Linked DNA regions of Homo sapiens: region 1 is linked to region 2. Evidence: fine-mapped expression QTL. A gene starts in region 2. The other region holds a variant in brackets. All regions are shown on one strand. Distances are from middle to middle.

Evidence for each region. PIP is the estimated chance that this variant, and not a neighbour inherited with it, causes the effect.
Region 1: its variant is the best candidate, but not a certain one, in a credible set for the expression of ACAP2 in skeletal muscle (GTEx, PIP 0.58).

Annotation. Positions count from the first base shown.
Region 1 is chr3:195,282,810-195,288,044 of GRCh38, forward strand. It overlaps ACAP2 (ArfGAP with coiled-coil, ankyrin repeat and PH domains 2), which reads right to left. Exons shown (of 23, transcript NM_012287.6): 22 at 2,987-3,048. Among named protein-coding and RNA genes, the nearest start is that of XXYLT1, 14 kb to the left of the region's middle. The variant C/T (reference allele first, on the strand shown) is at 3,253.
Region 2 is chr3:195,440,398-195,445,632 of GRCh38, forward strand. ACAP2 (ArfGAP with coiled-coil, ankyrin repeat and PH domains 2) reads right to left here and starts at 2,623. Exons shown (of 23, transcript NM_012287.6): 1 at 2,398-2,623. The coding sequence starts at 2,450. RefSeq lists enhancers at 1,538-1,627, 2,167-2,666 and silencers at 2,078-2,127, 2,148-2,367, 2,488-2,987.

The DNA of each region.
Region 1 (5,235 bases), 160 kb before region 2:
GTTTTTAAAATGCAGACTGCTGTGTTTCCACTGACAGTTTAAATTCACTTTTAATTTTTGGTATTCAGAATATCTACCACAACAGCAGTTATGATGATTCAAGAGTTTGCTAATTTTGCTCTTGAAATGTACTCCCCTCACCTCACAGGGACGGCAGCACATGAGACCCACCCCAGGTCATCCTATGCACGACCTTACCCCTTCTGGGTGGGTAACAGCTTACTTTCATAATTACTTAGATCAGCGATTCCCAACTTGTGCTTGCTACATACTCACATAACCAGTAGCGGGTCCCTAAAGCAGTGATGATTCTCAACTGGCTGAGAGCCTGCCAACGATCAAGAAGAGTCACAGAGCCAGAGACTGTGGGAACCACCAAACCGGTTTCCAACAACTGAGAGAAGAGTGTGCTGTTTCCCTCACCCACCCATGTCTCCTAAGGGCTACTGGGACTGCCAAAGAGAGACACACCTTCTTTTGAAGAAAACGTGTGCTCTCAATCACCCCACGCAAGAAACAGGGAGTCCCAGGTCCCTAGGGTTGTACAGATAGAAAGTTCACAAGTGGGGTTTCCTAGAAATAAATCAGTGATTGCCAAAGATTACATCTGAATCTTTTAAAGGATAAGAGCTCTTCATTATCAAAAGATTAAAAATACCTGCATTTAATTTACCCAGAGTTCTGAGGTTTTCATTCTATTGCTAAGAAAACCAAAAAAGGATCTCAATAAAACAAGCAACCAAAGCATTTGATAGAAAAATGTACAGTGATAAGCAGAGGAAAAACAAACAGCCGCTGCCTGAGCCAAACATACCTGTCTCATAAAGAAAAAGAACAGAAACCGAAGAGCAATTGCTATGCCATTTCACCATGTCCCCTGTCTAAGCATAAAATCATCCTGCTTTAAATATTAGGCCCTCTGAATGAGTTAAAAATCTAACCCTTCTCAAGATGATCCTCAAATAAATCAGAAATATCTCAATTTTATTCTGATATACTATTTCCAGAATTCTGGTCTATTTTTTAACCTCTAAACTAAAATGTGAGAATGGTAAGAGAGCTTGTTTTAAAATGAGGCTTTTTTTTTCAAGTTTTCATTAAATTAAATTGGTAAAATCTTTTCTATACATTTTAAGTTTATGTATATATAAACTCAAAAATGACAGTGGAAGACATTTGAATGCTCCTAAATGATGGTGGCAGACACCCAAACAATTTGGGTGGAACTAGAAGTGGCAAGAACTTAGAGGCCCTTTCCTTTCAAGCTTCCCAACTCCAGAGAAGAGTCGACCACTGACCACCTGGCTAATCAGCTGGGTGAACTTCATCAGCAGACACCGTAAGGAAAGAGCAGCTAACCAAACACTGAAGTTAAAAATGTCAGGGGGAAAATAATTGTTTAACTTAAAATCGTGAGGTTCACTCTTCTCTTACAAATATCAGGTCATATTCTTTAAACAATTTTTATTTTAAAGTGCTTAAACACAAAGGCCTCAAAAACGGCCTAGTAATACTATCAGTTAAGAATATCTGTTATAAAATTATAACCTATTTAAAATCTAACATTCAAGTTTGAAACAAATGGGTGAAATCCAGAATGAACGCTAGAGCTTCACCCTTCATCAGCACTCTTCCATCTCGGAACATCATGAGCCGCCTACTATTGTATGATCCATAGGATTCAAGTGGGACACCCTAGATTAGAAATATCTAGCTGAAGTGCCTCTATTCTTAACGTTCTTACTTGTTCCACATTAAATTAGGCCAAAAATAAGCAGTAGTAAATACGGTCCTCTGAGGAAAGAACGGCCTCACATTAACTATATATTAATCTCGTTAAAATAAATGGCTGAAGTACAGAAATTTCAAAATGTATTTAAACAGGAAGAAGAGATGATATTACCAGGTCACTTTAAAAATAATGTATCAATATTCATTTTTAAAAAACCAAACCTACTCATTGCAAACTGAATATTCTCAAGTATTTTAGTCACGAATTCATGAAATTTTTTACTAATGTGTATATAAATTTAAAACAGACAGATGAGTAATTCATATACTCAAATTCATGAAACAAGAAAACCAATAATTACTCTCTTCTTTGTGAAGAACGTCTAATCAACGTGTTCTTCAAAGAGAAGAATCTGATACTTCTTCCTTGACATCTTGATTCAAAGGTGAAAATTACTCAAAATGAAACTTGAGGTGATCATGAATTGAAATTTCTCAAGTAGAATAAATCTACTTTGCCATCAGGTGCAAAAAGTATTGTTCTAAATACTTCCGCTTATCTAAGAGATAATGTACAACTGCCTGGAGGCAAAGCTTTAGCTTTAGATAAAATGAGACCTTTGCCCTCAGCCTTTCAAACTAGCTCCACTCACATCATGGACTTCTCCACCTGGTGAATTTTCATTTTAAATCTTCAACTCATTTTTAGATTGTAGTACAAAACTCATCAGTAAACTTTTTCTTGGTATTTTCCATACTGGCTTTTTATATGCCAGACACATGGTGATTTTTTTTTTCCCTGAACGTAATTTATAGAAATTCCCTGAATAACAAAAAGAAAACAATTTTGTTATATTCACTTGACAGCTAAAAAGAATTCCAAAAAGAAAACAACTATTTTGCTGCTGTAAGTATATGAAGAATATTTTTACCATTCCATTCATTTCACTGGAATGTATATGGAAGACATCCGTACAGCAAATAAAGAAGTCAGCAGCCAGAGTGAAATAGAGCAAGTCAATGTGTACTGTCATAGGAAGAGTTACGAATGTTTAAAGGCCCGGGATTAGCCACCCAAGGATTCAGTTAAGTACAGTACAAAGCTAACAACTCACAATTTACAAGTGGGTTATAAAAACTCTATAGTATCACATTAGTTTGCTAAAGAACTATGAATCTTCCAGTTGTAAACTGATAAATTCCTGAATGCATTTCTTATACTGCATTTCAGTATGGTTATTAGTAGAATATTGACCTGGCTGTCCATAAAGTCCTTCTGATTCCCGCATCTCTTCATTCATTCTTGCTAAACGTAACCTAAAAATAAATAAAATAGTGTTTTAGATGACATTATATAATATAAATGTCATAAATAAAGTCTATAAACAGGTAATACATGTACTAATGTAATTGTGTTTTATTTGCCATTAAAATAATCTGGCTTTTAGTTTATCAAACCCAGCAATCTGAGGTACAAAGATAAGTATCTCACCTTCATACAATTCTCATAAGAAAGGACAA[C/T]AAAAATCTTCTGACGACTGCATTTTAGCTGTACTGCAGCAGCATCCCCGCAATACCTCTAGTGGCTTGCTTCCTCCAGATGCCTGACAATTCCTGGCTCTTACAGCAACCTGTCAAATTTTAACTGCCAACTGTTGAAATTATTGCTTCTATAGTGCAGAAGTGAGAACCTGTCATAAGTTCACTCTGGCTCACCCTGAAGTGAGGTAGCTGCAGACATATAAACAGCATGTGTGGCCTCTAAACACTGGGAATATATTTTGATATACAAACATTATAATAAATGACTATAGGTTACCAAGAATTTCCTAACATTACCATATTGCTTATACATTCTTTTTAGGTTACTCATCTTGGCAGCAGATGACATGTAGCACTAGATTAAGAAGCTAAGTATTTCCTTTAAGCAACATTTTAAAATAGGCAAATATTGTGTTTGGTACCCCTCTCCTACTCTGTACCTCTCGTCCGTCCTTCTGGGCCACCAAATTTCCACTGCCTTCTCAGACCTCCATCACCCTCTTCTGAAATGTTCTCTCTGGCAACTGCAGCGTGTGACATGAACTTTTCCTATCTTCAAAGTTCCACAATTCCCTTTATCTTCTCTCTCAACCACTGTGTGTATTAACAACAGTTCCACAAATCTTCCTTTGGCATTTGGGTTTTCACAGAGGATGCTTACAAAAATTCTTAAGTGAAACTGAAGCACTCACACAAAGTAAAACAAGAAAATTTAGACGATTTGAAAACAGATTATTTTTAAGGGAAGGGTCCACTGCTATATAGGTATTGCCTGGGAAGCTGCCTGCAGAGCTTGTCTCTCTATATCATTCCTATCTTTTCTTTAATAACTTATCTTTCTTCTACTGTAAATCTGTAATGATTTAAGAGTTCTACATTTTCCTGCAATAGCCTCCATAATAACAGTAACCCCTCCTGTGGGGAAAGGATCTGAGAAAGTATGTTTTGCTGTTTTGTTATTTTATTTGGCAGAGGGGTGACATATGACAAGTCAAGAATTCTCAGTAGGAGCTCAGGAGTGTGGATGGACCTATTTCTTCTCCAATGAGGGGGGATAAGCAATTATGGGCTTCATTTAGCCCAGGGTAAGTGAATAAGTGATAAAGAATAAGTGACGATACAAAACATGCTTGAGATTTCCTACATAATAAGGTATCGGTGACGATTAATTTTCTGAATTCCATGTGTAATAAACTACTTTGATCTGAGATGTAAATCAAATTAAGACCTCAAAATTATTTAAAAGATCACATTACATTTTATTCAAACATTCAGAAGCATGCATTTTAATCTTAAAATTAATCAAGTATTCACGTAAATAATTTTTTTTTTTTTTGAGACAGGGTCTCATTCATCCTCCCAAGTAGCTACGACTACACGCATGTGCCACCACACCCGGCTAATTTTTAATTTTTTGTAGAGACAGGGCCTCGCTATGTTGCCCAGGCTTTTCTCCAGCTTCTGGGCTCAAGCAACGCTCCCACCTCAATCTCCTGAGTAGCTTGGATTATGGGTGGGAGCACCTAGCTTTATGTGAATAATTCTTTTTAAAAACAAGCACAAATTCCTACCACTGCCCAAAGGTAATGGAACTTCACAAATTACTAATATCAATGCAACTATCCTGCCTACAGAATTAGAGAATCCTCTAATTCTCGAGGTAGTAGAATAATTATCTGTTAGTCTAACAATCCCAGCCTCTGCCCTAGTACTATACAAAGAGATAAAGAAACCATTTTAGCCGGGCACGGTGACTCACGCCTGTAATCCTAGCACTTTGGGAGGCTGAGGCAGGTGGATCACCTGAGGTCAGGAGTTTAAGACCAGCCTGACCAACATGGAGAAACCTCATCTACTAAAAATACAAAATTAGCCAGGCGTGGTGGCGCATGTGTGTAATCCCAGCTACTCAGGAGGCTGAGGAGGGAGAATCGCTTGAACCCGGGAGGCAGAGGTTGCTGA
Region 2 (5,235 bases):
GAACAGTGGTGAAATTTTCATCAGCAAGATGTGCCTTTTGCATTAATTCTACAGCACCAAGACAGTTATGTGCACACACTAGACTTAAATGCCACAAGATTCATTTATGAATAAAGACACGTATTAATTTAAAGACAGCCCAATAGATCAGGACACAAGTGCAGCTGCCTTACTACCAAAAAACAAGCCCAGGCCTCACAAGCTTTTTATTTTGATACAAGTTTCACTATCACTCAACATACACAATACTCTCAAAAGTAAAGCTCTTCTTATACATACAACATGTGAATGAAGACTTCTCAAATATTCTTTTCAAATGCTATACAGATCCTCATAGTAATAGGATTATGGAAAAACTATAAAAAATTAAGAATATGAATAATGAAACTTCTATTTCTCGGCAGTCTTCCCTCTATTGCAAATCTAATTTGTCCCCAAAATGTATATAAGATGTTGAAGTTATTGAAATTTTGGCATCTCTTCCCAATTTGCAGCTAACAATAATTGGAATATGGGAAACAACTCCTGAAAACCTGTAATATTTTAATTAACATAGAATTTATGTTACAATCAAGTTTAACAAAAGTTCACTATAATATTCCCTACAACTTAATCAGTATGTTGCCCTCTTATTTTATATTCAATGATTTCTTTATTTCAAAAACAAAGACATCACATGGTTTGTGACCAACCCCAGTAGCTAGAAGTATTTCCAAATCACTTCTCTCAACTTAAAAAAAAAAAAAAATTAATGTGAAACAAAGGGAGTTCAAAGCTACATCTTCTAAGGGAAAAATGCTGTGATTATTTCACTTAAAAATAAATAGCTGAGTCATAGTAACAAAATTTCACAAAAAGCTGAACTTTCTAAGGTGCACTTTAAAAATTACTCCACTTGCCATGCTGTCCTGGAAACCAACCTGCACGCCTGTCCTAGGAAATCTATTTGTGTCTCTTGAGTCCTTCAATAATGCAGAACATAAAAGTTTCAAAAATGAATCGCAACAACAGCTATCAAAGGAAGTGGGTTTTTTTAAATAATAGCCCTAGGCTCCAATAAAATTAATACCCAAAAATCATCAAAGGGCAAACGCAAAAAGCGTTCTTAAATTTTCTCTAAGTAGCAGTTCCTTAGTTTTACAATTCTTTTCTTTTTCGCTGAAAGGAGAATAAGAAATCCAATTAACAGTGTTAAGGATGAGAACAGTTAGTTCCCAGGCAGAGGATGCAATTTACAATCCAGGCTTGGCCCAGACATTAGCGGGCACACACACGCCAGTGCTCAGAGGAAGCTTCAAGAAATGTCACTATCTAACGGAAGTGTTAAGGCCTTATATTTGTAAGGACTATGACCAGCCCTGTAAATAAATACACTGTAAAACGCAACCTAGAAAAACTCCATTGTCCAAAACAACTCAAGACTTTCCTACTATCCTCAAAACAGAAAGAACCTGTGTCCTGGACGGCCTCAGGACGACCGCCTCTCACATAGAAAGAAGGGCAACCCATGTGAATCGGAGTGCCCCCATGTCAACTCTGTGACAGATCCACTGGGAGCATCCGACTGTGATCCGGGCCCTCCTGGGCAGAGGCTGCTGGAAGAGGAACACACAGGCAATCTTCACGGCCCTCCTACTTCCGTTCTCAAAACAGAAATGCACTTTTCTGCTAGTCCTCCGCCCTCAGCCCGGTACCTCTCGACAGCTGTGCCCCCTTCAACGAGCTTAAGTGGAAAGAAAAGCAGGTAGTCACCAACTAGGGTCCACGGAATGCGGTTGATCACAGCGCTTCCCCCCGCGATTCCCGCACGCATCCACCGCGGGCGCCCTCCGGAGAGTCGCTCTGGCCGGGGGCACCGCGAAGCAGAAGTCGGCGTCCCAGTTCGCCCCCTACTCTCTCCTCCCCGGGGAAGGGGGGCAGAAAAGCGCAAAGAGGAACTAAATGAACTGCAAGAGGATGCCCTGAAAGCTCCCTCAAAGAGGGGGTGGGGAGGGGGTGGAAACCAAGAAGGGGCGGAAGGAAGGGGGAAGGAAGAGCAGCCAGAGGAGGAAGGGGGCGAGAGCGAGCGCCCGCGAAGGGGACGGGACTTCGGGAGCGCGGCTGCACCCCATTTCCCCCAGCGGGAGAGGGTGCGCCGGCCTTCGGGGCGCTCCGCCCCGGCAGAGGGCAAGGAAAGAAATGAGAGGCGACGTCCCCGTCCCCGCCACTTCGTCGCCCCTCGGGAGGGCTCGGTGGGGACTGCAGTGCCCTCGCAGGGTGGGAAACGGCGGCAACAGCCGCTCGCCCCGTCGGAAGGAGCGGACGGCGGGGCCTCCTCCGGGTGCGCGGGCCCGGCTTTCACGCCCCCAGCGCCGGGAAGGCAGCTCCGCGGTGACGCCGGGCGGCCGTGCCGGTTACCTGAAGCGGGGCGAGTCCTTCAGACACTCCTCGAAATCCACAGTCATCTTCATCCTGCCTCCGCCTCGCAGGCGGCGCTGGCAAAGCCGAGGGGGCCGCGGGAGCGGCCGCGCTGGGACGCAGACGGCTACGGCGGGCGCACGGCCGCGACTAGCGTTGCGCGGAGCTGCGAAGGGCGCCTCGCCCGCTGGTCATAGCAGCCGCGAAGACGGCGACGACTAGTCAGGCCCCAGTCCCGCCCCTCTTCCTCCCGCCCCAAGTAGAGCGCTGGCCGCAGGGAAACGGCCGGGGAGTGACAGCAGCGGCCAGCCAGCCACGAACCTGGCGGCCAAGGGGCGGGGCATCCGGCAGCACCGCCTGCGGGCGCCCGGGCAACGGGTCTGAGCGACGGCAACCCGAGCCAATGAGCAGCGCGACCGTGGGCACCTCCTTGCCACAACCGCCCCCGAGGGCCAACCGGGATGCGCGGGCGTCGCTAGGCGGGACGCACCGGTTGCTGGGAGGCCGGCAGCTGAGGTTCCTTGGGAAGGAAGTCACGTGGCTGCGGCCGCGCTTCCCTCCGAGCCCCCGCCTCTTCTCCTGCTCCCCGAGCCCCGCCCTGCTGAGCTGCCAGCCCAGAGGAGCAGTCTCCTGCAGGTCTGAGGAAGGAAATTTGCTTTTCAAAGCAGATTGGCAGAAATCTGAAGAGGTTAGAGGCAGAAATTATAAAAGGAAGAGATAGGCTAAGCCACCTATTCCTTTCAGTTTAGAGAAACTGAGGCCAGAAGAGGAGCGAGGATAACTTTAGTGATAAAATCCATCTTTCATGTATTTGTTCCATAGCTTCATAATCTGGAAATTGCTCCCATGTACATCTTCTCATATAGCCAGAGACCACTTCCTGAAGGAGCTGCCGTTTGGGTTGGACATAGAAAGATTTAGGCAGGTATGGGAGGTAGGGTGCTTCGTGTGGAGGAACTCCTCTCAAAACTGCCGAAAGCATTCCCCCTCACTGACACTTTGCTCCTGGTGGTTTTCACTGTTCTGCCATGGTGGGGTTCTGAAGACCAGGCTCATCGTACTCACCTTGCAACACCTGCCCCTCTAATCCACACTTTTTCTAGAAGCACTTTAAGATACTTATCATCTGATCCTCACGGCAGGTATTTACCATACTCCTTCATTTTAAGATGCCATTGATTGTAAAAAGTACAAAGATGTCTTATATGTAATGAGTAATTTTTAAGCCAACCTAAAAAACACGGGCGTATCTATAAAAATGAATATACAGGGTGTTCTAACAGCATAGTGGCTCTGAGTGAGAATCTGGAGGCAAACTTCCTGGATTTAGGTCCCAGCTTTCTCACTTTAAAATGAACATAACACACAGATCTGATGAAGTTGTCCGGTTAACACAGTGCCACATATCGATCATTCAGTAAATGTTGGCTATTTTAATTGTACCATTTGCCTCTTCAGTACTATAATCAAAGGGCTTAAGTCTAAGTTCTCTCACTTTCACTGTCTGAAGTTTTTGTTTGTCTCAAAAACAATCAAACAATTTCGTTCCGTTCCCCAGGCTGGTCTCAAACTCATGGCCTCAAGTGATCCTTCTGTCTCAGCCTCCCAAAATGCTGAGATTACAGGTGTGAGCCACACACCCAGCCTTCTAAAGTCTTAATATAACTTTCTGACCGTCTGGCTAAGTATAGCGTGATGACATACTGTTTTTCGTAACCCATCAAGAGATATCTTGATCTCTTTAGCATCTTTAGAAATTAACAGTATAGACAGGGCATGGTGGCTCACACCTGTAATCCCAGCACTTTGGGAGGCCGAGGTGAGCAGATTCCTTGCTCCAGGAGTTCCAGACCAGCCTGGGCAACATGGTGAAATCCTGTCTCTACAACTCTACAAAAATATACAAAAAATTAGCCAGGCACATGCCTATAGTCCCAGTTACTCATGAGGCTGAGGTGGAAGGGTCACTTAAGCCTAGGAAGTCAAGACTGCAGTGAGCCATGATTGTGCCACTGCACTCCAGCCTGGGTAGACAGAGCAAAACACTGTATCAAAAGAAAAAAAAAGGAAAAAGGAAAATTAACAGTATAATTCTGAGGCATTTCAGAGAATATAGAAGCATTATATTCATTTATTCTTTGCTTATAAACTTGATTTCTTTTTTAATTGTGTATTCCTGGAAACCACACAGCTTTTCTTGATAGCTAAAAACAGACTATTGACTGTTAAATGTTCAGGGTCCTCAAGCACATTAGTGGTCAGGCCAACCTTCCCTAACATTGTAACTTCAATGTCAAATTTACCAAGACAGTTGGCAATCTCTACTATATTTGGTTGCGTTCCTGATGTGTGACAGCTAATCTGCATATACAATAACTTATTATTTTAATACTTAATCACAGTGTAGCCTTTTAGAAGATACCTAAAGTGACACTTTGGGGTTCAAATTAATATTCAACTGCATGGCACCACAAAGGCAAATAACTAAGCTAATTACCAAGTGAACATCTTTCTGTGGATGGCTAAATTTGCATATACCCAGTTAGTGATAACACTGTCACAATTTTTCTTCCTTGCCCTGTGATAAAGCAAGCATTTGGGGGTGTCAATTCTAAGATAGGTCCTAAATAAAGAAACATTAAAGTGGGATGGGGTGGGAGCAGTGGGTCTTAGAATAAAAGAAATACAATATTATTATCCTCATCTTTTTTTTTTTTTTTGAGAAGAAGTTTTGCTCTACCACCCAGGCTGGAGTGCAGTGGCACAATCTTGGCTCACTGCAACCTCTGCCTCCCAGGTTCAAGTGATTCTCCTGTCTCAGCCTCCCGAGTAGTTGGG